Linked DNA regions of Homo sapiens. The protein of the gene in region 1 purifies or fractionates together with the protein of each later gene. This does not show direct contact. Each region holds a gene or a part of one and is shown on either strand. Other genes may lie near its edges.

Region 1 (3,500 bases):
TTCCTCTAAACAAACTGTGAACTATTAAGAAGTGTTTAATTGCCTAAGCACCACAAACATAACTTCAAGAAATTGTAATGAACAAAAGTAAAGAAGAGAAAAATGGGAAAAAGAGAAAAAAAAAACAACAAAGAAGGACAAGCAATCACAGAGCTATTCGCAACTATAGGTATTCACTTTATAATTTTTTCAATATTTCAGTGGTCTACTTTTGGACTTATCAAATAAATTTTATAATCCCTAAAGTCAAAAACAATAACTTTTACTATCTATTTCTCTACTCTCCTCTATCTCACTCACCTCAAACGCACACATACACACACATATGTACACACTGGCACATAACAATCTGTGAGGTGTAGCAGATTTCAGATGTGCTATAGGAGTTGGCTTTCTAACATAATCACTTGAGAAACTGAACCCCCCTCTTCCTGGAAACATTATAAGAAAAATATCAGATGGTCTAGGTGTTGAGAACTCACCTGTCACATAAAGAGTTGTTGAGTGGCTTTCAATGAGATTAGACTGAAAATTTGCAGAACAGCGGTATGACCCATTGTCATTAGGAAGCACTGGTTCAAAATGTAGAATGAAAAATGAAATGTTCTTCTCTTCCTTCCAACTTGTTTGTCTATCTTCAAGTTTTACACATGTTGTTCCATTGAGCTTGCACCAAGTCACATGAGGCCTGTTAGCACAGTATTTCACAGGGCATTCTAGTTCAAAGGGATCTCCTGCTAAGATGGAGTGTTCAGATTGTCTCTTTATATAAAGCTGTACATCACATGATTCTTTCCCTAAAAGATAAAAACAAAACTAAAATCAAATATGTTCTTCTGGAAGTACCATATATATGTGACTTCAATAGTTCTCAAGCATTATTTGGTAATTTTCAAAAACAACCCCCCAATTTCTAGTAATTAAGCCTTACTAGCAGAATGTCTCATACATATTAGGCATATAATAAATATGTTTAAAAAATGAAATAAATCATTTAATCCTCTGTCTGTCAGGCCTTTGAGCCCAAGCTAAGCCATCATATACCCTGTGACCTGCACGTATACATCCAGATGGCCTGAAGCAACTGAAGATCCACAAAAGAAGTGAAAATAGCCTTAACTGATGACATTCCACCATTGTGATTTGTTTCTTCCCCACCCTAACTGATCAATGTACTTTGTAATCTCCCCCACCCTTAAGAAGTTTCTTTGTAATTCTCCCCACCCTTGAGAATGTATTTTGTGAGATCCACCCCCTGCCCCCAAAACATTGCTCTTAACTCCACTGCCTATCCCAAAACCTATAAGTACTAATGATAATCTCACCATCATTTGCTGACTCTCTTTTTGGACTCAGCCCGCCTGCAAGGTGAAATAAACAGCCTTGTTGCTCACACAAAGCCTGTTTGGTGGTCTCTACACACGGACACATGAGACACTGTCTTAGTCTGTTTTCTGCTAGTATAACAGAATACCTGAGATTGGATAATTTTTGAATCACAGAAGTTTTATTTGGCTCATGGCTCTGTAGGCTGGGAAGTCCAAGAGCATGGTGCCAGCATCTAGCAAAGGCCTTTGTGCTGCATTATCTCATGGCAGAAAGCAGAAAGTGGAAGGGAGCACACAAGACAGAGAAAAATGGGGGCCAAAATTTATCCTTTTATCAGGTGCCTACTCCCGTGATAACGAATCCATTCCTACAATAAGGGCATTAATACATTCATAACCTCTGATCTCTTAAAGGTTCCACCTCACAAAACTGTTACAATAGCAATAAAATTTCAACATGAATTTTGGAGGGGGCATTCAAACCATAGCATTCTGCCCCTGGTCCCCCAAAACTCATGTTCTTTTCACATACAAAATACATTCATTCCATCTCAATAGCCCCAAAAGTTTTAATTTATTGCAGAATCAATTCAAAACACTAAATTCAGAGTCTTATCTAAACCAGATATGGGTAAGATTCAAGGCACGATTCATTATGAAGCAAATTCCCTCCAACTATGATCATGTAAATCAAAACAAGTTATCTACTTCCAAAATATAGTGGTAGGACAGATATAAGATAGATATTCCCATTCCAAAAGGGAGAAATAGGCAAAAATGAGAAAGTAACAGTTCCTAAGTAAGTCCAAAACCCAACAGAGAAATAAAATGGCATTGCTGGGCTTGGTTGATGCTTCAGCACTCACAAGTTGGAGACTCCTACCTGCAGCTCTCCCAGGCTAATGCTTCAGGCTAATAGCTCCACAGTTCTGGGGTCTCAGTGGCAGTCCACTCCCATGGCTCTACTAGGCACTGACATGGGAGTGGACTCTTCCTGGGCCCTCAGGCTGTCCACAACATCCTTTGAAATCTACATGGAGGAAGTTGTGTTCCACACCTCTTGCATTCTGCTAGCCTGCACACTTAGCAAGTGGGTGCCACCAAGGCTTACCAATTGCACCTTATGGAGTGGTGGGTTGAACTGCACCTGGGCTCACTTGAGCCATGGCTGGAGCAGCTAAGGAGCACTGTGCTGGAATTCAGAGAACAGAAACCTGAGGCAGATCTGGGCAGCAAGCCTGTAAAGGGCATTCTAGTTTCCCCTGAAATCAATTTGCCCTCTGAGCTCTGAGCCTATGATGGGAGGGGCAGCCTCAAAGGCTTTGAAATGCCTTCAGGGCCTTTTTCTCAACTTCTTGAATAGTACTTCACTCCCTTCTATCCATATTAATCTCTTTAACAATGGTCACTAGGCCACACCCTTAGTATTTTCTCCCATTCATGCCTTTTCACTTTTTATATGGCTAGGCAGTGAATTTTCCAAATCTTTCTATTCTGCTTCTCTTTTAATTATAAATTCCATTTTTAAGTCATTTTTTTCCCTCCTGCCTCTTACTGTATGCAGTTAAAAGTAGCCACACAGCAGCCTAAATGCTTTGCGGCTTAGATATTTCTTCCACCAGATATCCTGAATTATTGCTCTTAATTTCTGCTTTCCGTAAAGTCCTAAGACATAGATACATTTCCACCAAGTTCTTAGCAACTGTATGACAAGAATGGCCTTTACTCCAGTTTCCAATGGCTTGTTTCTCATTTCCTTTTAGTTATGCACTTGGTGTTGATTTGTATTTTTTTATTTTCCAGTAAAGTTAAGGCTAAGCACGTGATCCTAAAAGTATTTTCTTTTAAATTATTTTTTTCTCCACTCTTACAGTTCTTTCTTAGCCTTTCTTTCTATGTTTTGAACTACCGTCTCTCTTAGCAATGTCTAGTTCATCTCCTTCATTTATTTATTTCACTCATTTTCATGCATTCTTCTGAATAGATGTACAGTATCATACATTAGAATGACATAAGTGTAACAGAGATGATAGCCAAAACTCTCTTTTAAATACAAAGACAGCTAAAGGCCTTGCCTGTGATCACACAGCTTGTCAGATGTTGAACCAAGGAGCAAATTTTGACCCTGAGTTTCTCATACATGTCTATCCAGAACAAGGTTTCACCTTATTT
Region 2 (3,500 bases), on another chromosome or scaffold:
GAAGAAACTGACTATTCTAAAACCCAAGGAAAAAATAAGCCAAATGGAATGTATGCATAGTCCATTTATCCCACACACTATTTATTGAGCAACTCTGTGCCAAGAATTGTCCCAGGGCTGTGGCTCCTATCAAGTCTACTGAGTAGCTAAAGAAATATGAACACAGCACCTCATGACATTTGTTCAAATACTAATAGAAGGAATCTACATAAATAGTTAAAGCAGAGCTACTACAAAGCAAATGATAATGAATGCATTTTCTCAACTTTTAATTTCCCTTTCTGTTGTTTTAATTTTTGCTATGACTTGTTGAGTAATACTCTGCATTTTCTTCTCAAAGAGATTTGAAACTGTTTATGAAAACCACATACAAGATAAAATAAACAGATAAGAAAATCAGGATAAATGGAAAATCAGGGAAGAAAAATAAAGCTGGGAAAAGGTTACTAGTGTAGAGGGCAAGCCAGAAGACACTGCTGGAAGAAACATACCTGGCTCTGATTTTGCCATTATTTGATTTATAGTGATAAAAATATTTGGCTGTTATGTATTACATTAAAAACAAAGCTTACTGACAATGCTAGTGTGTACAGGCTTGACAGACAAATTCAAACTTCCAGGATGGCTACGCTGACAAACAACATCAGTGGCATGTACCAGGGGAAAGGGCAGAGTAAGGAAGAGTGGAGAAAATGACCTATAGGATTGGTGCCAACCTTCGGCAATGACAGGAATACCGTATCTTGCCCTTTTTCTTCAGAATCCCCACTTCAGTCACTCCTACTCCAACCCCAGGGCTTTAGGAAGTAGAGATCAGAGGCTGGCTAGCTTTAAGACAGTCATAGTAACTTAGTAAGCCTGGGAAGCAATGTTGTTTTGGCAGAAATACTTGGCTCATAAAGAATCTGCCCCATCCCAACTGCCACAGCTGTCCAACTCATAAAAGAGTCACTGAAAATTTAATAAGAGTGGATGAAGAAAAGCTCTGAATGATAGCTGAAACAAATTCAGCTCTGTTCACCATTTTTTATCGATCATACTGGCAAAGATAAAAAAGTTTGGTACTACCTTGCTGACATGAGAATGAATGAACAGGCACTCAAAAGGTCTTTAAATCAGTATAAGGTCTTGAAAAGCATTTTAGCAATGGCTACCAAAATTTTAAATGCACACACCAACAATTCTACTTATAGGTATGTAGTAGGTATAAGTGGAGTCTCCTATAGAGAAGTCTCTATAAGTGCAGAGACTCTAAAAATATATTACGTAGCTATATACCCTACAAAGGCTCAGGGGACATTAGTACAATGACAGTCATTGCAATACCAATCATGAAAGACTAGACACAATTAAACATCCCTCAATTTTACTTCAATTATGATCCCTTTATATGATGGAATATGCCAACTCATTAAAGGAAATGATGTACATCTCTAATGGATATTATGGAACAACCTCTAAGAAACTGTAAGGTAAAAGAAGCATGGTGTTAGGTAGGAAGGAAAGAGGAAGGGAGAAAGGGGAGAACAAAGGAAAAAAAGACGAGGTAAATAATATTTCTAAAAAGATACACAAAAACTATTACTAGTGGTTGCTTCTGGAAAAAATGGGGAAGGAATTTTAGGTGGAAGTAAGGCATACTTTTCAGTACCTTTGTACTGTTTAAATTAATCATTGTGAATGTAAATTATTTCTTCAGTTTAAAAAGGTGATTAATTCTTTAAAAGCCTGTTAAACATTCTCCCCAGAATAAAGCTAAATTAGGTTACTTTTTACTTACACATTGTTCCTTTCTTCCCTTTTCCTACATAAGAGTGGCCAATTAAACAATGGCTCTATGTTGGTTTAAGTACGTGCAAATACATGCATTATAATAAACTTTTAGTTACAAGGGACAGCTCCACATGGCTCCCTCTGACACTTCAACCTTAGAATGCCCCAAACTGAATTATTTTGTTATTTAGTTTTCTATTAACCAAAATGTTCAATCAATACTTTTAGATAACCACAAAATAAAAGTTAATGTTCACACTACAATGAAACGCTTTCTATATCATTTTAGAAGATTAAATTATGCCCAATAGAGCCTTGGGGTTAAGAATCTTATAATGGTTTTCTCTGAAAACTAGTAGGTTACATAATAATTCACATCAGTTGTCCATACCAATTTTTTTTTTTTTTTTTGGCCAGAGACTCCTATGACAATTTAAAGAAAACGTATTCCCATAAAAATGCACACATATATACACATCTTTGCCTCTATGGCACAAAAGGAATAGGACTGTAGGGGTTCATATTCCTCCCTGAATCCCTTTCAAAGGTATCAGTTTGATAAATTGTGAAGAGACAATCAGGCTTACCAAGGAAAAAGAGAGATGCCCATCAACAGTGGCACTCAACTTTAATGTGTACAAAACTCCCCTAAAGAATGTATCAAAAATGGAGACAACCAGGCCCTACCTCCATTGATTCATTAAGTATGGCCTAATGATCTGCATTTTAATAAATATCCCAGGTAATTCTAAAGCCAGTGGAGCCAGACCATACTGCAAGTAACACCAGGACACTCCCTTCCTCAAGACACTACAACAGTCCTCTGCAAAGGAAAGGCATGAATTTCAGGAGCAGGAAGAAAATAAAACTTTTATTTCCATTTACTTTTATTTTTTAAAAATAGAGACAGGGTCTCACTATGTTGCCCAGGCTGGTCTTGAACTCCTGGCCTCAAGTGGTCATCCTGCCTCGGCCTCCCAAAGTCCTGGAATTACAGGCACAAGGCACTGGATCCAGCCTCCATTTACTTTTTTCTTTGAGACGGAGTCTTGCTCTGTCATCCAGGTTGCAGTGCTGTGGTGCAATCTTGGCTCACTGCAAGCTCCGTCTCCCGGGTTCACACCATTCTCCTGCCTCAGCCTCCTGAGTAGCTGGGACTACAGGTGCCCGCCACCATGCCTGGCTAATTTTTTGAATTTTTAGTGGAGTCGGGGTTTCACCGTGTTAGCCAGGATGGCCTCTCGTGATCTGCCTGCCTCGGCCTCCCAAAGTGCTAGGATTACAGGCGTGAGCCACCATGCCTGGCCCATTTAATTTTTAATTCACTATCTTAAGATCTGTTTTGTGTGTATGTAGTTTTTATAAGGCACACTGGTATAATGAGAGATGCGAATAATTTATAAGAAACATATATATATTTGGAAGCAGGCTCAAAAATTTTTTAAACTGATAGGGTGCACAATCAAAGCAGGTTAGAGACCACTGGACTAAATAACCTGAATTCTCCTCAACCTGCTCAGCTGCTTTAAATCCTAAATGGGAATAATTAATTGGTCCAGAAGCTCCAGAAGCTTCTATGCAACTCTCTCTCTGTGTCATATTCCACAGCTGTCCCCCATCCCAAGGAGCCCTAACCAATGGACCCCCTCAAAATCTTTAATCTCTGCCTTATCTCCTTAAGTAGCTATGGAGAGGGAGTTTCTATGAGACATCTTCCGGATACTCTG
Region 3 (3,187 bases), on another chromosome or scaffold:
GCAAAGTGCTGGAATTACAGGCATGAGCCACCACACCCAGTCTGTGCTTTTTTTTTTTTTTTTTTTTTTTTTTGCCACAGAATCTCACTCTGTTGCCAGGCTGGAATACAGTGGTGCGATCTCAGCTCACCGCAACCTCCGCTTCCTGGGTTCAAGCGATCCTCCTGCCTCAGCCTCCTGAGTGGCTGGGACTACAGGTGCCTGCCACCATGCCCAGCTAATTTTTGTACTTTTGGTAGAGATGGGGTTTCACCATGTTGGCCAGGATGGTCTTGATCTCTTGACCTCGTGATCTGCCCACCTTGGCCTCCCAAAGTGCTGGGATTACAGGCGTGAGCCACCGTGCCCAGCCATCCATGTTTTCTTAATGTAACTTGAAATGATTATTCTGTTAATAAATTATCAATCTGCTATGTTCATAAATTTGTTTATGTGCAACCTTAAAAAGGAGGTGAGAATCTCACAGTCCATTCCTCTTACATGTGAATCACTTTCAATTGTGAATGGCTTTTCCTGTTTTATTTGCAAATACATACACATATACATATCATTTCCCCTTTTTTAAAATAAAAAGTAACATACGAGGCTGGGTGCAGTGGCTCACACCTATAATCCTAGGACTTTGGGAGGTTGAGGTGGGCGGGTCATGAGGTCAGGAGACTGAGACCATCCTGGCTAACACGGTGAAACCCCGTCTCTACTAAAAACACAAAAAATTAGTCAGGCGTGGTGGCAGGCGCCTGTAGTCCCAGCTACTCAGGAGGGAGGCAGGAGAATGGCATGAACCCAAGGGGGCAGAGGTTGCAGTGAGCCGAGATTGAGCCACTGCACTCCAGCCTGGGTGAAAGGGCCAGACTCTGCCTCAAAAAAAAAAAAAAAAGAGTAACATACTAGGTATGCTGTTCTGCATCTTGCTATTTTTCAGTAATAGTATAATCTTTAGCAAGCTATCTACCCTTTGAGTTGATTAATCTGTAAAATATGAACACCGAGAGGATTAACTAGAAAGATGCATGTAAGGAACTCACCAGAGGACTGGGCAGAGTGAAGCATTTGATATAATAGATGCCACCTCAACACTCCCTGCATCCTACTTCCACCTGCGGCCCATTTCATAAGATGGCTAAAATGCATATCAGACTAATATTCCATTAGACCACTAAAATGCCCATGGGAAATCAGGAAAGCTCAGATCATACCAGCCTAAATTATTTGTGGCTTTCTCCCTAAAGTAAGTTTTCAGTCAATTCTGATGACTACCCAATATTTATTCTTTGAGACAAATTTAAGGACATAGTTTTGTGTATGTGTACATTGGATTCTTCTACCTTCAACCAAAATCAAGGGAACAAAATTCCCTTATCTATTCAAACACACTCTTTGGTCTATCCAGAAGCCTACAAAGTGCTGTTGGGAGAAACTATCCTGCCCCCAACTTAGTTCCAGTGTTTGGGGGCTTGCAAATTAACAGATCAATAGAAAAAACATTTATTATATATGCATGCAAGAACACTACAAAGAGTAGCTCTCTGAACAGCAAGGGGTAAGGGTTTACAGATCAGCTTTATGGTGTGTGTCTTAAGGCTTCAGAATGAAACTACAAAAAGTTCTGATAAGGCTTATTTACAATACCTTGGGAGGTCCTAGTGCTAAGTGCCCTTATAAGAGGAACACTCAGAGGAGGGTTTTGGCAGCTGAATTCTCGGTAAGACCTGCTTTACTCATCAAAGTTTAGCTAAGGCTTTTTGTCTGCAGCTGCTGTTTGTTCAGATATTCTCAAAGTAGACTTGTGTCATATTGATGGGTTGTTAGTCCCTTCATTGCCCTATTTGAAACTTGACATGAAGTTTCACTGACAAGGAGCTGTGCTGATTGCTGTGGAGATAAGGCTAGGTTCAGAGGTTGGGAGTTAAGGGATCTGCGAGATTTGCGAAAGACACGAACATAGATTAAAACAAAGATGAATAAGCAGAAAAGAACAATTAAAAGCACATAGCCCCATGATCTGAACCAGTCTCCCACTTTTGCAAATATGCCTTGCCAATCAAGTAACGGTACATTCTTCAGGTTCTCGGATGCTTCGTGGAGACGCTGTATATTAGACTTTATTTCTTCCGAATAATTTATATAGAGGCAACACTGTTTGCCAACAGTTCCACAAGCCGTTTGTCGTTGGGTGGTCGGTATATCCAAGACATGATCCTTTCGGGATGCAGAGGCTAAACTGCTAACTTTTGATTGGTGTGCTTCCAAGGTCTGCTTAGTGGCACTGAATTCCTGTTCCATTGCTTTGGAAATGTTTAGAATTGCCTTTTCTAAATCATAAGTTCCCAAACTTGGAAAAAGGGCCCTTATTGTTGAATTGTCCTTGGGGTTGCAATACAGAGGTGGATTGTCTGTGTCTCCTTGGGTGCATCTATGCGGTGTTACTTTATGAATGAAGGATCTCAGGTTTGTAATTTGGCTAGCATTTAAGGTGAGGTATCTGGTGAGGGAAGGTACAAGATACCCAAGTCCACATCGCCCAGACCATTTAGGTGGAAACCCTTTGTACACCCCATTGCCGCACAAAAAAAAGAGGCCAGAGTTGTTCACAGACAAGGTCAGATTGGAACCTGTGAGCCACCAGGTGGGGGTCCGGTGTCCATCATGACCTTTGTCATTAGTTATGCTGGCATCTGCACATCTCCATTTCCCATGTGCCTCTGTCAGGCCATAAGAGCAAAATAGGTTGCGAAATAGCTGGTACAGAAGGCCTTTGGTTTGGTTTTGGCAGCTATAGAGACAGGTGTCATTACCTGACCAGGTCAATCCAGAATTTCGATCTACCCATTTGTAGTCTTGGGTATTGGGCAGACCAATCAAGGGAACAGCTGAGCTGTTCCAGGTCCGGTTTGTGCAACCTGCAAACCAGGAACATTGTCTAGTGCCTAGGCAAACACTTGTATCATCATCATCGTTCCTGGATTCATTTGTAACATCTATAGAGGGCATGAAGGTGCCATCTGTAGAATCAAACCATAGTATTTGATTACAGTATTGTTTAGGTATATTACCTAGGAAGGGTCCACTGCCATTTTTATTTTCTACGCAAAGAGAAAAATTTCCCTCCAATAACCTTACTTGAGCAAAGGATAGACCTTGAGCTTCCATGGAGGCTTCCCAGTGCCAAGTCACTTTACGATAG
Region 4 (3,500 bases), on another chromosome or scaffold:
GTTTTCAAACTAGCTATTAGTTACTTACCATTGGTATCTGGTTTGATTTTCTCTTCCTTAAGATGCAAGTTGCTCAACTAAATGGAGAATATGGGGGAGGGGGAAAGTGTCAGGAAAAGCACTTAAAAAGATTTGGAATCAACAGAGCCTCCCTAATGAAGCTGGGGATAAAATAGCCATTCTCAAGGTATATTCATTAGGACCAATTCATTGGGTTGTTCCGTTTACTAAATGTCTGATGAGAATAAACAAAATTTCCCGTAAATACATCGGTGGAAAAAAATGCTCCAAATCTGTACCTTCTACTTAAAATTCTGTGAGAGAATTGTAATTTGTGAGTTTGCTTAATGCCCTGATTATAAACTTTCTCTCTTTGTAGAATATCATTAGAGTTGTCATTCTCTCATATTTCTTTTGTGTGTGGGGGGGAATCGCTGCATTCCAAATCATATTTCAAACAAGAGGAAATTTAAAGAGATTTTGAAAAATGCAGTCATACTTTGGAGAACACTGGGAAGGGAGGACTGTGATGAAAAGCATCTGTAAAGCCAGGTGCGGTGGCTCGCGCCTGTAATCCCAACACTTTGGGAGGCTCAGGCAGGCAGATCACGAGGTCAAGAGATCGAGACCATCCTGGCCAACATGGTGAAACCCCGTCTCTACCAAAAATACAAAAATTAGCTGGGCGTGGCGGTGCATGCCTGTAGTGCCAGCTACTTGGGAGGCTGAGGCAGGAGAATCGCTTGAACCCAGGAGGCGGAGGTTGCAGTGAGCCAAGATCACGCCACTACACCCCAGCCTGGCAACAGAGTGAAACTCCGTCTCACAAAAAAAAAAAGAAAAGAAAAGAAAAGAAAAGCATCTGTGGGTAGGAATCAGTCATACTGCAGGATACGTTAGAGCCGTAAGACCACAGTATGCTGATGTGCAGCCTCACATTCAAGTCACCTTTTGCTGGTGTCTGATACTGTAGTTGGGAACAGCCTGAAGCATTGTGGCACACTGTGTAATTAAAATACCCACTGGGCTGAAGTGGAAATAGAAAGGAAAGAGACATTTCAAAGAATAATTACTAAGACTTTGATCAAATACTGTATATTAGGGATATCCTAGCAGGTCTTATCTCCTCTATTAGAATGCAAATACCTTCCTGACAGGGCCTATTTCGTTTTCTACTGCTCCTTGAGGAGCAGGGCTACCCCACAGGAAATGTGCCCAGAGTAGCATATTTCTATTTTTGGCCTTTGGATGTAGTACAGAGCAAAGTAAGTGCTCTAGTCGTAAATTTTTTGTTTGTTTGTTTTTTGAGACAGAGTCTTGCTCTGTCACCTGGACTGGAGTGTAGGGGCGCGATCTCAGCTCACTGCAAGCTCTGCCTTCCGGGTTCACGCCATTCTACTGCCTCAGCCTCCCGAGCAGCTGAGACTACAGGCGCCCGCCACCACGCCCGGCTAATTTTTTGTATTTTCTTTTTTTTTAAGAGATGGGGTTTCACGGTGTTAGCCAGGATGGTCTTGATCTCCTGACCTCGTGATCCGCCTGCCTCAGCCTCCCAAAGTGCTGGGATTACAGATATGAGCTGCCACGCCCGGCCTTTCTAGTCGTACATTTTTATTAAAAACAAAACAAAACAAAAAAGCCTTTTTTTTTTTTTTGAGACAGAGTCTCGCTCTGTTGCCCAGGCTGGAGTGCAGTGGCCTGATCTCAGCTCACTGTAAGCTCCGCCTCCCGGGTTCATGCCATTCTCCTGCCTCAGCCTCCGGAGTAGCTGGGACTACAGGCGTCCGCTACCACCCCCAGCTAATTTTTTTGTATTTTTAGTAGAGGCAGGGTTTCATCATGTTAGCCAGGATGTTCTCAATCTCCTGACCTCGTGATCTCCCTGCCTCGGCCTCCCAAAGTGCTGGGATTACAGGCATGAGCCACCGCACCTGGCCAAAAAAGACTTTTTTAAAGGTCAGAAAGCATCTGTAAGTCTTGGACCCCAGCACAGGGATTAGATAGATGGAAAGTCTGGCGTGAGTAAGTAACCTTTCAAGCTAAAGCCAACCCTAATCATAAAATATCAAGCAGGGCCTAAGACATCATCTAGTAAAAAGAAAATGAAAATCACAACCTAATGGTTCTTTCTTTTTTTTCTGCAGACGAGGTCTCACTCTGTTGGCCAGGCTGGAGTGGTGCAGTGGCATGATCATGGCTCATTGAAGCCTCAACCTCCTAAGGCTCAGGCAATCCTCCTGCCTTAGCCTCCCAAGTAGCTGAGACTACAGGCACTCACCACCATGTCCAGCTAATTTTTTTTTTTTGAGGCGGAGTCTTGCTCTGTTGCCAGGATGGAGTGCAGTGGTGTTATCTCAGATCACTGCAACCTCCGCCTCCTGGGTTCAAACGATTCTCCTGCTTCAGCCTCCCAAGTAGCTGAGACTACAGGCATGCACCACCATGCCCAGCTAATTTTTGTATTTTTAATAGAGACAGGGTTTCACCACATTGGCCAGGATGGTCTCAATCTCTTGACCTCATGATCCGCCCACCTTGGCCTCCTAAAGTGCTGGGATTACAGGCATGAGCCACTGCGCCCAGCCTGCCCAGCTAATCTTTTATTGTAGAGTTGGGATCTTACTGTGTTGCTCAGGCTGGTCTTGAGCTCCTGGGCTCAAGCGATCCTCCTGCCTCAGCCTCCCAAAGTGCTAGAATTATAAGTGTGAACTACGCATTAGGCCGCATTTCTGTTGTCCCTCTAAGTCCAAGAACAGGCGAAAGGGGAAGGAGGGTAGAGAGGAGAGAACAAAAAAATGTTTTAATTGGTGGTTTGTTGAGAATGGAGGAGCCCCATTTCTATTTCTCTTTTTTTTTTTTTTTTTTTTTGAGACGGAGTCTTGCCCTGTCGCCCAGGCTAGAATGCAGTGGTACGATCTTGGCTCACTGCAACCTCCGCCTCCTGGGTTCAAGCAATTCTCCTACCCCAGCCTCCCAAGTAGCTGGGATTACAGGCGTGTGCAACTACGCACAGCTAATTTTTGAATTTTTAGTAGAGACGGGGTTTCACTATGTTGGTCAGGCTGGTCTCGAACTCTCGACCTCGTGATCCACCCGCCTCGGCCTCCCAAAGTGCTGGGATTACAGGCGTAAGCCACTGCACCCAGCCAGGAGCCCCATTTCTTTTTGTTTGTTTGTTTGTTTTGTTTTTTGAGATGGAGTCTCGCTCTGTCGCCCAGGCTGAAGTGCAGTGGCGTGATCTTGGCTCACTGCAAGCTCTGCCTCCCAGGTTCACGCCATTCTCCTGCCTCAGCCTCCGGAGTAGCTGGGACTACAGGCGCCTGCCACCATGCCCGACTAACTTTTTATATTTTTAGTAGAGACGGGGTTTCACCGTGTTAGCCAGGATGGTCTCGATCTCCTGACCTCGTGATCTGCCCGCCTCGGCCTCCCGAAGTGCTGGGATTACAGGCATAAGCCACCGCGCCCAGCCTCCCATTTCTATTCATGGAAATGGACAA
Region 5 (2,751 bases), on another chromosome or scaffold:
AAAAGATAATGTACTCAACCAAAGGTATTATATGATGAAGTGACATTTTTACGAATGGGAGAAGAGACAGTTTACTCAATAAAAGATCAATGGGTAGGCATATTTAAAAAAACAACCAAAGTTAGATTTCTAATATGTTTAATACATTCCAGCTGGGTCAAAGATCCAAAGGTGAAAAATAAAATTATAAAAGAAGACAAGTGGAGGCCAGGCGCAGTGGCTCACGCCTGTAATCCCAGCACTTTGGGAGGCCTAGGTGGGCAGATCACCAGGTCAGGAGATCAAGACCATCCTGGCTAACACGGTGAAACCCCATCTCTACTAAAAATACAAAAAATTAGCTGGGTGTGGTGGCGGGTGCCTGTAATCCAGCTACTTGGGAGGCTGAGGCAGGAGAATCACTTGAAACCGGGATTGCACCATTGCACTCCAGTCTGGGTGACAGAGCGAGACTCCGTCTCAAAAAAAAAAATGACAAGTGGAGAAGGCCATTCTAAATATGATACAAAATCCCAAAAGCCACAAAAGCAAAGATCTGTAAATTTTGTACTAATATTTTTAATTGACAAATCATAATTGTATATACTTATGGTGTACAAAGATTCATAAATTTGCTTACATGAAAATAAAAATTTCTACATATCAAAAAATACCAGAACAAAGTCAAAAGACAAATGACAATGACAAACTGGAAAGAAGATATTTGCAGGATCTCTTACAAAAAGCTAATATCTAAAGCACACCTGTAATACAAAACAAAGACCAACAACCAACAGAAAAATAGGCAAAGAATAGAAATAGGAAAGGCCATGGTAAAGCAGATTCCAGTGGCTGTTAAATACATGAAAATATGCTCTACGTTACTCATAAAAAGAAAAATAAAAATAGAACATTTTTATCTGTTAGGTTGGCAAAGGATAAGAAGACATGCATTGATGGTGAGATTATCAGTTAGTATACCTTCTTTAGAGGTAATTTGTAGTATCTAGTGTAATTTTGCTAAATATAGTCTTGACTCAGTAATTTCACCTCTAGATATCTACTGTTAAGTGAAAAAAAAAAGGAAAAAGAAGCAACATGCAGAACAATGTGTGCAGTATGTTACCGTTTGTGTAGGGGGAAAGGAATATATACATTTGTTTATAAATTTGTGGCCAATCTCTAAAAATGCGTAAGCAGGTGGTTTCGGTACTTGCTTCTTGGAGGGGGAACTGGATGGCAGGGAAGAGGGAAAGGACAGAGACTTCACGATCACTGTTAACCCTTTTGTACCATTTGAAGCTTTTACCCTGTATATATATTACCTATTAAAATAAAACAGTAACAAAATCAGGTACATCCAGGGTTTACATCCCGTTAAATACTCCAAATACTCCCATTAAATACATCCAAACAATCCCATCAAATACAAGTAACTCATCGAGCACCATCAAATGCTCACATACAACTATTTTATGATACATATTATTACAATATTTTATATTCTCTATTATTTAAAGGAACATAACTGTTACAGTATTTGCTTCAATTCTTTTGATACTTCCACTAAATTGTTAGAAATTGTACAAAGGCCTAAATAATAACCATTTTTGAAAATATGTGATTTTATAATCATTGGCATTTTATCTTAAAATACACTACATTCTTACAAAATAATGAAAAATTGGTAATTATTATTATTTTATTTTTATTTTTTTGCGACACAGTCTCACTCTGTTGCCAGGCTGGAGTACAGTGGCGCAATCTCAGCTCACTGCAACTGCTGCCTCCCGGGTTCAAGCGATCCTCCTGCCTCAGCCTCTGAGTAGCTGAGACTATAGGTGTGCACCACCGCGCCCAGCTAATTTTTGTATTTTTAGTAGAGACAGGGTTTCACCATGTTGGCCAGGATGGTCTCAATCTCTTGACCTTGTGATCTGCTTTCCTCAGCCTCCCAAAGTCCTGGGATTACAGGTGTGAGCCACTGTGCCCGGCCAAAACTTGGTAATTATTAAAACTGTTTCATTTAAAATACATAATTATGATCTTGTAATATATTTATATGTATCTCTAGAACACTATTTTTAAACTTTTTGTTCAAACTGCTCTTGGATTCATATGGGTTTTAAGCCACTGATCAATTGCATTTTCATACTTCCTTGGTTCCTTCTGCCAGTCTTGGTGCCACCTAAGATTTGCTATAACGTTTGAATAATTCTGTCCTATACTTTGTTTCCACTTGATAAACTGCTCTTTATTATACTGGTGGACAGAAGCAGAAACTTTAGGGTAGTTTATAATGGAATGAAGCTTCTGATCCAAAGAATAAGTAATTTCTGGAAATTTTACAGCAACATTTGTTAATTCATCTGGATCCGAGGAAAGATCTGAAAGAAAAAAAATAAGTATCTGTCAAAATAGTGACCTGCTAAAAATTTTTTTAGAATGTCATTATGACAGGTAATGTATTAGATTTTTTTTTTAGATTTTCAGTTCCTGTTAGTGTAGTAAAATGAAGGACAGTATAAATGGTAAAATAACATACCAGGAGTTAAACACCCTATGTTGCATGCCCAAATTCCCTCCTTCCTACCATTGTCCAGCTATCCCACTTTTTTTTTCTTTTCTTAAATGCCAGAAAAAGTCAAACTTTTATCATTAGTAAGCTGGTTTAGAACAAGTTCTTCCTGTTTTTGATGTCCTGCCTACTTTGACAGGCAGAAATGAATACAGTAATGCTTATACTGTACCATTTTAACAGCCTCAAACTTT
Region 6 (3,500 bases), on another chromosome or scaffold:
ATAATCCAGATCACTGAGGTACAGCATGCAATTGACCAGCTTAAGAGAAAACTAGATACTGACAAAATGAAACTCATAGTAGAAGTTAAGGTAATTTACATTTTTCCTAATCAGATTATTATAACATTTATCTTGAAATAAAATATTTTGGTGTTTTAACTTTGGGTGTCAATAATATAAGGGTAGCCAGGATTGACTGTATTAAAATTGTTACCTTAACAGTAAAGAGCATAGGTGAAAAAAAAAATGCAGGAAGAAAAACTAAACCTGTGAAAAGATACATGATATAATAAAGCCAAAGTAAAATTTAGTAAAATTTTACTAGGAAGAATTAAAGGAAAAGGAACCTGTGAGTCAATATATTCTCAAAAAAAATTTTAAGTAGTTTTCCTGTATTAGAATTATTAAGTCTGATAAACCACTGAGCTCTCCTCTGAACTGACATTTAATTTTTTATGGGTAATCGTTTCATTTTTTCTGGTTATTTTCATATGTATTCTATTATTTAAATATGAATAATGTGTCTTCTACTAGATGTTAAGTTTCCTTCCTGGCAGAGACTATGCCTTAGTTAACTTTGTTTCTCCCATGGGACCTTTTGTATAGCAGATGCTTAGTAGAGGCTTCTGGGCATGCTCTATTTGGTGAGAATTGTGTACAACTAATTACATCATAGAAATTATCTGTGAAGTACATATGTATTAAAAAGCTTTTTTGTTGAACAGAAAACAGAAGATTATACATTTTCATACAAGTACCCACAGCAAGGCAGGAAAATGAGAACGATAATTATATGAATGCTCTCATTTCTTTATCAGAAACAGCTTTATGACACAGAATAATGACTGCATTCTAGAATTAGCTCTTTTTAAAAAAATTTTAAAAAGAAAAAAGAAAATCAGTACTGTCCTCGGTTTCAGATAAAAATAAAAATAAATAAAATTTAAAAATAAAAAAATAGAATTAGCACTGTCCAACAGAACTTATGTGATGATAGAAATGTTCTATGCCTGCACTGTCAGATTGGTACCCACTAGCCACCTATTGATATTGAGCACTTGAAATGTAGTTTGTGTGACTGAGGAACTGAATTTTAAATTTTATTTAATTTTAGTTAATTTAAGTTTAGTAGTTACATATGGCAACTGGCTTCTACTATACTGGACAGTGCAGTTCTAGATTCTTTTTACAAGCAGCATTCTCGAGGCTAAATAAGCCCTGGTTTGGCACTGAGAAGCTTAAAACTTAAAATAGAAAAGGAAAAGAGCAGAGGATAATTTTTAACAAAATATCAGTTAAATATGCACTCAAAAAATAATTTGTTCAATGAAGGAAAACTGTCTATTCAATATATGGAGATAAAGCCAATATGTAAACTTGTACACTTAATAATTGGGTAGGTAGGAAGGAGTAATAAAAATGCCCCCAGAGGCTTGGATTATGACTCCCCTCATGCTGTTTTCTTCTGGAAAGCATGCACATTACTTGTAATCTTTGTATATTTTAACATTACAAATGTCACTCATGGTTTGAACTCAAATTAGAATTGTTCATACAAAAACAGTAAGGACAAGTGGAATAAGAGGAAAAAAAGAGAACAAAGTTTTCAGCTTATAGGCTGGGGGGAAAAAATCCTGTATTTAACCATAGTGCCTGATTGACACATAACAGACATTATTTAAGAAGTTTTATTGATTTCTGAATGATCTCCCCAAAACAGCACTACCTATAAGATTCAGAACTAAGGGACAAAAAAAACCCAGCCTGAGTCTCTTGCAACCATATTTATTCAAGATAGTATAGCATAAGTAGTGCTTCTCAAAGTTTAATATATCATCTGAGGATCCTGTTTAAAAATGCAGGATCTGACTCAGTAGGTCTGGGTGCAGCCTGAGATTCTTCCTACCTAACAAGCTCCCAACTGATGCTAATGCTGCTGTCCACAGACAACACTTGGAATAGTAAGGGCTCTGGTACCAGGTGGTTTGAATTTGAATCCTGGCTGTACCCACTTCACTTACTAGTTTTTTATCTTGAGCAAGTTACTTAGCCTCTAAAGGTCTCCATTTCAACTGTAAAATGGGGATAAATACTAGTATCTGATTCTGTAAAATTTTTGAAAAAAAAATAAGAGACTAATACACTTAGAAGAGTGCTTGCCACAGAGTAAACACTATATTTCTGAAATATCTATTCCGTTCCTAAGGGCTAGGAATTAAGGGTTTTTTTTGTATTTTGTTTTCTTGTTGTTTTCACTATTTTCTTTACACATTGAGAACAACAGGTTTTGAAGTTTAAGCAAAACATAAAATTCTTTCTCACTCTAGTTTTTAGAACAGTTCAATTGTATTGTCCCTATCTACTCATAAACAAGGTTACCTTATAGCATATCTCACCAGTAGATAAGCATGCTTATTAAACAGCATTCATAATCTACACATTTACTGTAGTAATCCAGTGGGAGTTGAAAGCACTGAAGCCAAATGAGAGAAGACAGTTAAAGCGGTTACAAAAACCCTGTTTACATGACAACTATGATGTACTTTTAGAAGGGTATGATGAAGTTCATTTTTGAAAAGTAATTCTTTTTATAGATGAGAAAACAAGCAGTTTCAGATTTACGAACATTGAAAACTGAACTGGCACAGAAAAAAAAAATAATACATCTCTACAATCTCAATTAGGTATGTTAATTTAAAACTTTTATTTGTAAAAAAATTTAAATATGTATTTGAACAGATTTGTTTAACCATTATTCTCCTTGGCAATGTTTTATAAAAAGCACAAGGTTTCTCTTTCTCCACTTTCCATGTGGGTATTACAAAATGTTTCAGGAAATATTAGATGTAATATAAAGCAAAATGATGAATGGTTATTTTTAACATTCCAAGTCCTTTACATATTATTTTACAGTGCTAATTTTATAATTTTCATTTTAATAATTTAATAATAAAATTCAATAATAATTTATTTAACAATTTAAGAGCTAATATAACTAAAATCTATTTGCAAAGAATAAATGTATATTAATGAATACTAATATATTTGCATGAAAATACAGACTTCATTTAACTTAATTTGTTCATTATATCTTAATTAAAAGAAATCTGGAAATATAAAAGAATGGGGGTATTGAAGTTGCATTCTGAGCTATGATAGAGATAAGCATCTAAGAATTTAAATTTTTTAATTCATTTATTTTAGAAATATGAAGACAACAGTGATCCAACATATACTATGAAAATGGTTTTTACTCTGTCACAAACAATTGTGTAAATAGGAAATGTAATATTCTCATAACAGATGGTTCAATCATCATGTATTCCAATTTACAGGGGCAAAATGTGCAGGGAAGCCAGGATTTATGTAAATCTAGAGTTCAAAGATACAGATTTTTAATCTGTAATTAGGAACTAATAAGGGCAGCACAATGTTGTTCTTAATTCCCTGGAGAAAGAAAACAGACTTTATTACATTTAGAAAACTTATTTGTATAAAAT
Region 7 (3,500 bases), on another chromosome or scaffold:
TTTAGGCATAGAAAGGGAAAATATTATTCAAAAGTGTCATCATTCATCATTTTAGATAAGTTAATACTGGGATTATTTTTCCATAGAGCTTTGTGTTTTAAAAATTATGTCATAAGTATCATGTCAATCAAGATCCTAAAACAAGTATTATTGAAAGTTTGAGATCAGGAAACTCGAATTCAACAAGGTTAATAATAAGAAATCTATATATATATGCTGTGTGTGTGCATGCATGTGTGCATGTGTGCGTGTGCTGTACATGATGAGCACATAGGTGTCTATCATTCTGGTTAAATATTAGAAAGCAAGCAGCAAAGTAGCCCATCCTCTTCTTTGGAATTAGAGAAACCAATGAAGTACTGTATCAAAAATTAGGGGGAGAAAGATTAGAAGTAATAAATGGTAAACAAAGTACAACACGTCTCTAACACATAGATAAACCAATAACTACTTCTATTAAGAACATGAAAACTTGGTGTTTTACCTAGATTAGAACAAGATGCAGAATTTAGCAGACAGTGATACGCTGAATAACCCTTGTGCCCTCCTCCCACAGCACTGGCTCAGACAACCACGAACAATGCCCCATCACCCCTTTGCTGTATTTCCTTTTCATTCCATCTCCATTTCCATTTCTGTGGTGGTTCAGTCAGGCTGGTGGGAAAAATTTTAGTTTTAATAGCCACAAACCTTGTTGGAAGGTCTGAGGGTTTGCATAACTTCAGTAATAAATCAGTCTGAAGGCAGCCTAGTCCCCTTATCTTTAGTTAAATAAACTAGAGTAGAAATAAAGGAATGTGGAGAGTTTACCTAACTAGCTTGTTTACTCGTGTGGTCCTAAGACTAACCTTTGATCTACCATGGGTGCTTAATTGCTTTCTACTTGGGAAGTCCACAATGTCAATTACACTCTAGTGGTGTTGACCCAAGCCTTTGTCAATTAATCTTTACTGAATAAACATAAGTCTTGCTGACTGATTGAGACCATAGTCGCAACTGTTTACAGCACTGTGCGTGGAGTCTGTAAGCGGCCCAGATGCTCAGCTGGACTGGTAAAGCAGAATATCTGTGTGTCAGTGTACTTTATTCATCCATCGTTGGGTCAGGGTCTGTGGGACAGACCCCTGCAAATTTCTGGGGAGCTATTCTGTATCTAGCTATTAGACTGCTGAAGAAACCAAGGTCTTGGGATGATGTTCAGATGACCAACACCTGGAATGGCTGCATGTTCTCTAAGGCTAACACATCTTCCTGGGCTTTGTCAGTGACTTGGAGTGTCACTACTACTCATAGGACAATGACTATTTGTTTAACCTATATAATCAGATAACAACTCTAAGCCTCAGCTTTCTTGTCTGTAAAATAAACTAACTAGCTGATTTCTAAAGTGCTAAGACCTTGCCACTACAGGAATTCTACATCCAAGAGATGTCTTGTTTTGTATTTCCTGAGGGCATGTGAATCTTTTGTATCTAGTAGCTTTGCACCTTTCTTAATGTCTAATTGTTAATTATTTAAACAAAGTGCATATAGCCAAAAAAAAAAAAAATAGAGAAAATGGCCACATATTTTCAGTAATTCCTACAGTCACTTTCAAGACTCTCACATCACTAAATGAGGAATAAAGGAGACTTTGAACTGCATAAACCCACAAATATAATAAGCTGCATTATCAAAAGTGTTTACTTGATGATGTAAGAAGTAAGAATACTGCGAGAGAGTGTAGAATCTGCAAGGTTCTACCTACCTCCTGGCCGTTCATGCTCTCCATCAGTGTGTAAAAGCATGGCAATAGGCATCCCTACGTTCTTGGATCTTCCAGCCACAACCACATTTTTTCCAAATGTTTGAATTCCTTAAAATACAGAGTTCGGTTTAAATGCAGAATTGACAACAAGAAGTAAATTAAACATTTGTACAGCCAACTGAAACATTCTTTTAAAAATTTCTAATTAAATCTGAATTATTATGTGGCTTATCTATAATATGAGCACATTCATTATTTATAAATAATTCATTTTATGCTTCTTTGATTTGTCACTTCTTCTCTGATTATGTACTCATTAAAAACCACAGACATTCTTAAGTTGACATTAAGTTGCTTTTAAACATTGAGAGTCACATTAAGAGTTAGAAGAGTAGAGTTTTAACATATATTAACTGCTTATAAAAAAAGCAAAGTACAACAATGTCGAACTTAATTGGCAATCAAATTTTGAGCAACGCTGGAACAAAACAAGTAAGAAAAGAGGCATTTTTCACAAAGCTCATGCATTTTACTCCATAGGAAAGAAGCACTAAACTTACAGACTTAGAAAGATGTAAAAAAATAAAGCCTGTAGAACCTTCTACTTCTTTTGGACTCAGTTTCTTCATAAGTAAAGCAAAGAAGTTAGAACTAAGGATTTTCCAATACTAACAGTGTAGGAGTATGATTCTAGGATCTGTTTTCCCTTGGAAGTTTTTCTTTCTCAGAAAGAAAACTTCTTTTGTAAGAGTCTGTGAGAGCATTACCGTATCCAGTACAGTACAAGGGTAAATGTTTAAAATTAAAACCCAAGCCAATAGAAATGATAACTATGTGATCAGAACATATTTTTAAAGGTACAGAAAAATATATTTTAGAAAAGTTTTCATCAAAATGCATGAAGTTTACATTTTAAAGGCCGACATATACCACTACTATGTGGAAAATTCACTTCCTATAAGTTGCAACTGCAGTTATCTATAATCTGGCTAATGCTCTTCGTTTCATTTTATTTTGGATTTTTTTTTCTGTTTGTTTTGTTTGTTTTGTTTTGTTTTTGAGACAGAGTCTTGCTCTGTCGCCCAGGCTGAAGTGCAGTGGCATGATCTCGGCTCACTGCAAGCTCCGCCTCCCAGGTTCATGCCATTCTCCTTCCTCAGCCTCCGAGGTAGCTGGGACTACAGGTGCCCGCCACCACACCTGGCTAATTTTTTGTATTTTTAGTAGAGACAGGGTTTTACTGTGTTAGCCAGGATTGTATTATGTTTTGACTTCTACAATTTTATATCTCTCTGTACACTGACGTTTTATGGATTATGATTTTCTGTCACTCTATAGGACTGAGGTAGTCCCATCAAGTCTCAGTGCACAAAGGCTCAGCTCAGCACCTAGCATCCATGTCCTGCAGACCACAAATTACCAACCTGTTCTTTTTATTATTTCCCAAACAGCACTGGCAGTGGCAGGTATGAGAGAATGCTGATCAAGGCACAATCTTCCAATATTGATAATATGAAATCCATCTACATCTTTTTCTGGGGCAATTCCATTGCATATTGTTCGCTCATCAACGTGGTCTGAAAAATAAATAAAATTTGTCTAATTTTAAAATTGTTATTTATTTGGTAGCCTGAAAAATGAAATCTGAGAATCTAAAGCCACATCACTTATAATTCGGCTCTAAAAAAGGTGTAAAGTCATTATTATTATTATTATTATTATTTGCCACCAAAATAGTAAGCCAAAGTGCTCT

What was found.
Region 2: the proteins of BTLA (region 1) and RPP30 purify together in Homo sapiens (affinity purification with mass spectrometry; one large-scale study listed by BioGRID and IntAct). This does not show direct contact.
Region 3: the proteins of BTLA (region 1) and ERVMER34-1 purify together in Homo sapiens (affinity purification with mass spectrometry; one large-scale study listed by BioGRID and IntAct). This does not show direct contact.
Region 4: the proteins of BTLA (region 1) and DDX19B purify together in Homo sapiens (affinity purification with mass spectrometry; one large-scale study listed by BioGRID and IntAct). This does not show direct contact.
Region 5: the proteins of BTLA (region 1) and ARSK purify together in Homo sapiens (affinity purification with mass spectrometry; one large-scale study listed by BioGRID and IntAct). This does not show direct contact.
Region 6: the proteins of BTLA (region 1) and CTBS purify together in Homo sapiens (affinity purification with mass spectrometry; one large-scale study listed by BioGRID and IntAct). This does not show direct contact.
Region 7: the proteins of BTLA (region 1) and MTHFD2L purify together in Homo sapiens (affinity purification with mass spectrometry; one large-scale study listed by BioGRID and IntAct). This does not show direct contact.

What each region holds. Positions count from the first base shown.
Region 1 is NC_000003.12:112,478,973-112,482,472, forward strand, and holds part of BTLA (B- and T-lymphocyte attenuator isoform 1 precursor), read right to left. Parts: intron 798-3,500; coding exon 483-797; intron 1-482. UniProt on the Homo sapiens protein: Inhibitory receptor on lymphocytes that negatively regulates antigen receptor signaling via PTPN6/SHP-1 and PTPN11/SHP-2. May interact in cis (on the same cell) or in trans (on other cells) with TNFRSF14.
Region 2 is NC_000010.11:90,881,974-90,885,473, reverse strand, and holds part of RPP30 (ribonuclease P protein subunit p30), read right to left. Parts: intron 1-3,500. UniProt on the Homo sapiens protein: Component of ribonuclease P, a ribonucleoprotein complex that generates mature tRNA molecules by cleaving their 5'-ends. Also a component of the MRP ribonuclease complex, which cleaves pre-rRNA sequences.
Region 3 is NC_000004.12:52,742,053-52,745,239, forward strand, and holds the end of ERVMER34-1 (endogenous retroviral envelope protein HEMO precursor), read right to left. Parts: coding exon 1,777-3,187; 3' UTR 501-1,776; downstream 1-500.
Region 4 is NC_000016.10:70,309,186-70,312,685, reverse strand, and holds part of DDX19B (ATP-dependent RNA helicase DDX19B), read right to left. Parts: intron 78-3,500; coding exon 29-77; intron 1-28. UniProt on the Homo sapiens protein: ATP-dependent RNA helicase involved in mRNA export from the nucleus.
Region 5 is NC_000005.10:95,602,852-95,605,602, reverse strand, and holds the end of ARSK (arylsulfatase K precursor), read right to left. Parts: intron 2,367-2,751; coding exon 2,077-2,366; 3' UTR 501-2,076; downstream 1-500. UniProt on the Homo sapiens protein: Catalyzes the hydrolysis of pseudosubstrates such as p-nitrocatechol sulfate and p-nitrophenyl sulfate. Catalyzes the hydrolysis of the 2-sulfate groups of the 2-O-sulfo-D-glucuronate residues of chondroitin sulfate, heparin and heparitin sulfate.
Region 6 is NC_000001.11:84,550,441-84,553,940, forward strand, and holds part of CTBS (di-N-acetylchitobiase precursor), read right to left. Parts: 3' UTR 2,685-3,500; coding exon of another isoform or gene 2,595-2,684; 3' UTR 91-2,594; coding exon of another isoform or gene 1-90. Other genes in the region: SPATA1 (spermatogenesis-associated protein 1), read left to right, coding at 1-90, 2,595-2,684. UniProt on the Homo sapiens protein: Involved in the degradation of asparagine-linked glycoproteins. Hydrolyze of N-acetyl-beta-D-glucosamine (1-4)N-acetylglucosamine chitobiose core from the reducing end of the bond, it requires prior cleavage by glycosylasparaginase.
Region 7 is NC_000004.12:74,199,618-74,203,117, reverse strand, and holds part of MTHFD2L (bifunctional methylenetetrahydrofolate dehydrogenase/cyclohydrolase 2, mitochondrial), read right to left. Parts: intron 3,325-3,500; coding exon 3,172-3,324; intron 1,856-3,171; coding exon 1,748-1,855; intron 655-1,747; exon of another isoform or gene 485-654; intron 1-484. UniProt on the Homo sapiens protein: Bifunctional mitochondrial folate-interconverting enzyme that has both NAD/NADP-dependent methylenetetrahydrofolate dehydrogenase and methenyltetrahydrofolate cyclohydrolase activities.